2 linked regions of the Homo sapiens genome follow. The protein of the gene in region 1 purifies or fractionates together with the protein of each later gene. This does not show direct contact. Each region holds a gene or a part of one and is shown in the gene's direction. Other genes may lie near its edges.

Region 1 (3,656 bases):
ACCCGCCCAAGTGTCCACCTAAACATGAGTTACCAACTAACAATGTTTTGTTTAGCATGCAAAGGGAGTGGTCTGGAATCTGGCCTTGCCCTGACATATTCTCCTTGGGCCTTTTTAAAAAAATAATTTGTGTTAATCTGTAGTTAAAAATTATAATAAGGACCTGACAAACACTACCTCAGTCAGATGATCAAGGTACACATAAATAGTGAAAGTCATGTTGATAGCATGCACCCTTCATATGATATGGCTAGAATGGCCCTGCACTTCTGTGATCTTCCTCCCCTAGACTCATCAGCTCGATCTAATCATAACAAAAGCATCAGATAAGTCCCCGCCCAGGGACATTCTACATAACCATTTCCCTTCCCAGTTATATTTTTCTCCACAATACTTTCCACCATCTAACATTCTATCTTTCAAAATGGGCAAGTATTTTAGCCTGGTTTGTTCATTGTTTTATCTGCAACTCAAATACAGTTCCTGAAATAAAATATCTGCCTAATAAATATTTAATGAATGAATGAATATAGCATTGCCTTATCCGTTTAATTGCCACATGGTATTTCATTGTGTGAACATAATATCGTTTATTTACCCAGACTACTACTCATAGGCATTTAGATTATTTCCGGTCTTTTGCTATTGCTAACAGCCTTTGCAATGAACATCCTTGTATACAGACATTTGCATATATGAGGGTGTGTCTTTAGGATCTACTTCTAGAATTGAAATTGCCAACTCCAAGTATATGTTTCCAATTGTGATAGATATTACACATTACCCTCCATCTTAGAGGTGGTGTTAATTTAGATTCCTGCCAGCAAAATTTAAGAGTGTTTGTTTCCCCATATCCTCAACTGCCTAACAGAATCAGTGAAAAATGGTATGACAGTGTAATTTTTGAGTGAGGTTGAGTATCTTTTCCTATGCTTTAAGAGCAATTTATGTTTCCTTTTTATGTGAACTGTCTGTTAATATATTTTTTCAATTTTTCTATTGGGTTATTTGTCTTTTCATTAATGCATATACCTGTTACATATTTATACCAAGTATGTATTAAATACTAACATATTGATGAAACAGAGCAAAAAGCCTAGAAATAGATCCAAATAACAGAAGAGTTAGTATGTGATACAGGAAGCCTATAAAATCAGTGAGCAAAAGACCATCCAATTAATAACGTTAGGGTAAATGGGTCTCCATTTAGAAAAAAATAATGTGGGTCTACACCTCACATTTTATACCTAAACAATTCCAGTGGGATAAGAAAATGAAATCATAAAAAATTACTAGGAAAAAGATGAGAAAATTGTTCATAAAACTGAAGTGTGGAAGATCCTTTATGCCTTACACTGCCCTGAGTGATCTCATTCATACCCATGGCTTCAATTGTCATGAATCCCAAATTCATTCCTCTGTCAGAACTCTCTTCTGAGCTTCAGACCCACATACTCAGCTGCCTACTGGACACCTCTACTTGAATATCACAAACTCAACTCAAAAGCAAACCTGTCAAATTTAATTACTAGTAGCCCTACCCCAAACAATCTTCCTGCTCAGTGAATGACACCCATCCCTCCAGGTGCACAGACCAGGAACCTAGAAGTCACTCTGATTGCATCCCTCTCCCTCACAACCTCTACCTCCCTTTATTCATCCATTGCTATGTCTCTCAAATGTACCTCCCAAATATCTCTTGAACGCGTTCTTTTCTATCTCTATTGCCACCACCCTAGTTCAAACTCCCATCATCTCATGACTGAAGTTCTGTGCCCTCTTGCCAGTGAACACTGTAGAATCAATCTAAACATGGTGCCACCCTGCTTAAAAACCTTCAAAGGCTCACATCACTTCTCAGATGAAGAGATTGGGGAGACGTTGGTAATAGGACACAAAATTTCAGTTAGGCAGGAGGAAAAAGTTCTATTGAAGAACTCTATTGTACAATATGGTGACTATAGTTAATAACAACATATTATACACTTGAAAATCACTAAGAGAGTCCATTTTAAGTGTTCTCATGACCAAAAAATGATAAGTATATGAGGTAATGCATATGTGAATTAGCTTGACTGAGGCATTCTACATGTATACATATTTCGAAACATCATGTTGTACATCATAAATGCATACACTTTTTAGTTGTCAATTTAATTAATATTTTTTAAACCTACTCTGGCCTTTTTTTCCTTTTTTGAGACGGGTGGTCTCTGTCCCCCATGCTAGAGTGCAGTGCGCAATCATGGCTCACTGCAGCCTCCACCTCCCAGTCTCAGGCGATTCTCCAGTCTCAGCCTCCCAAGTAGCTGGGACCACAAGCATGAGCCACCATGCCCCGCTATTTGTTTTTGTATTTTTTGTAGAGATGGGATCTCGCCACATGGCCCAGTCTGGTGTCCAACTCCTGAGCTCCAGTGATCCACCTGCCTCAGCTTCCCAAACTGCTGGGATTACAGGCGTGAGCCACTGTGCCTGGTCCACTCTGGTCTTTACTCAAGTCCCTGGCTTTCTCTCAGTCTCTTAAACTTATGTGCTTAGTAAGATGAGGACTGAAAAATGTCCACAGAACATAGTGACATGGAGATACTGAGAACCTCAACGACATCTCCATTAGCCACTTCCTCTGTGCCATTCCAGTCCTCTGGGCCCCACTGTGGCAAGCAGTCCTACCATGGCAAACATGAAAGCTGATGTGCCTTGTCTTAGACCCACACCATATCTCTCTGAATTCCTGTCCCAGGGCTTCTCTGGAGGTACAGCCTGGGAAACTCACGGGAATAGACACAGGGCCTTTGCACATGCTGCTCCCTTTTCCTGAAAAATTCCTTTGACATCTTGGTTGTGCCTTACACATGCCTACTCAACCTTAGGATTGCAGTTCAGGTTTCACTCCTTTTTTTTTTTTCTTTTTGAGACGGAGTTTCACTCTTGTTGCCCAGGCTGGAGTGCAATGGTGTGATCCTGGCTCACCACAACCTCTGCCTCCTGGGTTCAAGTGATTCTCCTGCCTCAACCTCCTGAGTAGCTGGGATTATAGTCATGCACCACCACGCCCAGCTAATTTTGTATTTTTAGTAGAGACAGTGTTTCTCTATGTTGGCCAGGCTGGTCTCGAACTCCCGACCTCAGGTGATCGGCCCGCCTCGGCCTAGGTTCCACTTCTTTATGGAAATCTTCCCCAGTTGCCTTGACTAGGCCAAAGTCCCCTCTTCTTAGGCTCTTACAGTGTCATGCACTTCTTTTTTATCACAGTGTAAACCTTGTAATGTTGTGTTTAAGTCATATCTGTTGTACCCATGAGACTGGGAGCCAATTCATATATTGTGAGTGTAATCGAACAGACTTCCCAGGCCACCCACTAGCTAATCAAGGCAGGGATGAGTCCGGAAAGTGACTTTGAAATCTAGCAATGTTGGAACTTGGAAATCACACAGGCTGAGATCTGCTCAGGTGCCTGAACAAATATAGCATTGCCTGTGGCGTCTCCCTCAAAGTGCCTTGCATGTCTGAGCCCCGTTGCCCCTTCCTTTGGTGTGCCTGTGTCTCCCGGTACAGATGTGAAGCCTGGAGACCTGTGGCTGCCTCTGCAGGAGCTCCATGTTTTCAAGCCATAAATCATCTTAGAATTCATAGCATCTAGATATATTAGTTTT
Region 2 (3,656 bases), on another chromosome or scaffold:
CAACTTCTTGGGAGGCTGAGGCAGGAGAATGGTGTGAACCCAGGAGGCAGAGCTTGCAGTGAGTCAGGATCGTGCCACTGCACTCCAGCCTGGGCGACAGAGTGAGACTCTATCTCACAAAAAAAAAAAAAAAAAAAAAAAAAAAAAAAAAAAAAAGGTGTTACATCTGGTAGCCACTATTTGCCTTCAAACAAGTCCGTTAACCCTACTTTACCCAGGCGGGTTTTTTTTGTTTTGTTTTTGGTTTGTTTTTTTTTTGAGACCGAGTCTCACTCTGTCACCCAGGCTGGGGTACAGTGGTGCGATCTCAGCTCACTGCAACCTCCGCCTCCTGGGTTCAAGCGATTCTTCTGTCTCTGCCTCCCGAGTAGCTGGGATCACAGGCACATACCACCACGTCTGGCTAATTTTTGTATTTTTTTAGTAGAGACGGGGTTTCACCATGTTGGCCAGGCTGGTTTTGAACTCCTGACCTCAGGTGATCCGCCTGCCTCGACCTCCCAAAGTGCTTCGATTATAGGCATGAGCCACTGCACCCGGCCACCCAGGTGTTTTTATCTAGGCACTAGGTTGTGTGCTGCTTGAGGGCTGGCATGAGATTGTAACTTATTTGTGTTTGGATTCCCTTTGTCTAGACAGAGATGCTCAATATTTGTTGAAGCAATGAAGAATGGATCTGTAAAATGGGGACAGAGAACCAGATCTCTCAAGACCTTTCTAGACCTCATCTTCTATGTAGACAGATGAATCTGGGAACTAGTGTTGAATTTGAAGACACACACAGACCTGCTTCACAGCCCTTTTCTAGTCTTTAGTCATTTTATTATACTTTTTGCCATCTGTCTTGTATTGCCATTTGAAACCATTCTAGTGAATGAAATATAAATTATGTTCTTATTTGTTTCTAGGAAGCAAGATTTCCAGATGTAGCAAATGGGTTTATTGAGGAAATAATTCATTTTAAGAATTATTATGATCTGAATGTGTAAGTATACTACCATGCTTTTTTTGTGGTGGTGGTGGTGGTGGTAAAATATATGTAATAAAAAATTTACCATTTTAATCATTTTTAAATATACAATTTGGTGTTGTTAAGTAAATTCACATTATTATGCAACTATCACCACCATCCATCTTCAGAACTCTTTCATCTTCTCAAACTGAAACTCTGTCCGCATTAAACACTCACTCCCCATCCCCTTCCCAAGCCAGTGGCACCCACCATCCTACTTTCTTTCTATATGGATTTGGCTACTATCAGGGACCTCATGTGTTTGTTCTTTTCTGACTGGCTTATTTCACTTGGCATTATGTCTTTTTTAATGACCTTGTTCGTTCTGACATTAGTGATACACAGACTGTTTTCTGGATTTTATGGAATACTGCATGGTTATAGAATTATGATAACTGAGTTGTTTCTAAGCGTTGATACTACCTGTGTTTTAGTCAAGATGTTAAGACATTTTCTTCCCTACGATTGTAACAAAATGTTCTGCAACCACTCTGTTTGGAGAAATACATGGAAGCATTTTTTTTTTTTTTTTTTTTTTTTTGAGACGGAGTCTCACTCTGTCTCCCAGACTGGAGTCCAGTGGTGCGATCTCGGCTCACTGCAAGCTCCGCCTCCCAGGTTCAGGCCATTCTCCTGCCTCAGCCTCCCGAGTAGCTGGGACTACAGGCGCCTGCCAGCACGCCTGGCTAATTTTGTGTATTTTTAGTAGAGATGGGGTTTCACCATGTTAGCCAGGATGGTCTCGATCTCCTGACCTCGTGATCCACCCGCCTCGGCCTCCCAAAGTGCTGGGATTACAGGTGTGAGCCACCGCTCCCAGCCATATTTCTTAATTTTCATTATAAAAGGGATAAATACGGGCCAGACATATGGTTCACACCTTTAATTCTGGCACTTTGGGAGGCTGAGGCAAGAGGATTGCCTGAGTCCAGGAATTCAAGGCTGCAGTGAGCTGTGTTACGCTACTGCACTCCAGCCTGGGAGCCAGAGTGGGACCTTGTCTCTTATTTTAAAAAAATTTTTTATAAGTGGTAAATATGCTTTTTTAAAAAATAAGTTTTCCTGAAGAATATAAAATGAAAAATATACTCTTTCCCCTCCTTCTAATCTGCAGAGGTGAAATAATTGTAATTTTTTTTTTTTTTTTTTTTTTTTTTTTTTGGAGACAGTCTTATTCTGTTGCCCAGGCTAGAGTGCAGTGGTGCGATCTTGGCTTAAACAGCAGTCTCCACCTCCCAGGTTCAAGCAGTTCTCCTGCTCAGTCTCCTGAGTAGCTGGCATTACAGGCGTACTCCACCCTGTCCGGCTAATTTTTGTATTTTTAGTAGAGACAGGGTTTCATCATGTTGGTCAGGCTGGTCTTGAAACCCTGACCTCATGATCTGCTCACCTCCACCTCTCAAAGTGCTGGGATTACAGCCATAAGCCACCGTGCTCAGCCTGGTGGTAAATTTAAACAAAATAGTTCACTAAACACCTTTCCCCAAAGTTCCTATCTTATACTGTAGTTCTCAGTCAAGGTTGCAGGTGAGTTTCTTCCCTGCCAAGGCTGAGAAGGAAGGGCCCCTTTCCAGGTGCTTAGCCCAATGTAGGTACTTTTTTCTAATTTGTACAATGACACTGTTGGAGCCATTAGTGGCCTTGTCTGATCCCACCTCTGTACAGAGGCAACCACTGTCATCAGATTTATATTTATTTATTTATTATTATTATTATTATTATTATTTTTAATTGATCATTCTTGGTTGTTTCTCGCAGAGGGGGATTAGGCAGGGTCACAGGACAATAGTGGAGGGAAGGTCAGCAGATAAACAAGTGAACAAAGGTCTCTGGTTTTCCTAGGCAGAGGACCCTGGGGTCTTCCGCAGTGTTTGTGTCCCTGGGTACTTGAGATTAGGGAGTGGTGATGACTCTTAACAAGCATGCTGCCTTCAAGCATGTGTTTAACACAGCACATCTTGCACCGCCCTTATTCCATTTAACCCTGAGTGGACACAGCACATGTTTCAGAGAGCACTGGGTTGGGGGTAAGGTAATAGATCAACAGCATCCCAAGGCGGAAGAATTTTTCTTAGTACAGAACAAAATGGAGTCTCCTATGTCTACTTCTTTCTACACAGACACAGCAACAATCTGATTTCTCTATCTTTTCCCCACATTTCCCCCTTTTCTATTCGACACAGCTGTCATCGTCATCATGGCCCGTTCTCAATAAGCTGTTGGGAACACCTCCCAGACGGGGTGGCGGCCGGGCAGAGGGGCTCCTCACTTCCCAGAAGGGGCAGCCGGGCAGAGGTGCTCCCCACCTCCCGGACGGGGCGGCTGCCGGGCGGAGGGGCTCCTCACTTCCCGGACGGGGCGGCTGCCGGGCGGAGGGGCTCCTCACTTCTCAGATGGGGTGGCTGCGGGGCGGAGGGGCTCCTCACTTCTCAGACGGGGCGGCCGGGCAGAGACGCTGCTCACCTCCCAGATGGGGTCGCAGCCTGGCAGAGGCGCTCCTCACATCCCAGATGGGGCGGCGGGGCAGAGGCGCTCCCCACGTCTCAGATGATGGGTGGCCCGGCAGAGACGCTCCTCACTTCCTAGAAGGGATGGTGGCCGGGAAGAGGCGCTCCTCACTTCCCAGACTGGGCAGCCGGGCAGA

What was found.
Region 2: the proteins of TLR8 (region 1) and RNF216 purify together in Homo sapiens (affinity purification with western blotting, with the first as the bait; one study listed by BioGRID). This does not show direct contact.

What each region holds. Positions count from the first base shown.
Region 1 is NC_000023.11:12,912,985-12,916,640, forward strand, and holds part of TLR8 (toll-like receptor 8 isoform 2 precursor), read left to right. Parts: intron 1-3,656.
Region 2 is NC_000007.14:5,736,605-5,740,260, reverse strand, and holds part of RNF216 (E3 ubiquitin-protein ligase RNF216), read left to right. Parts: intron 1-908; coding exon 909-985; intron 986-3,656.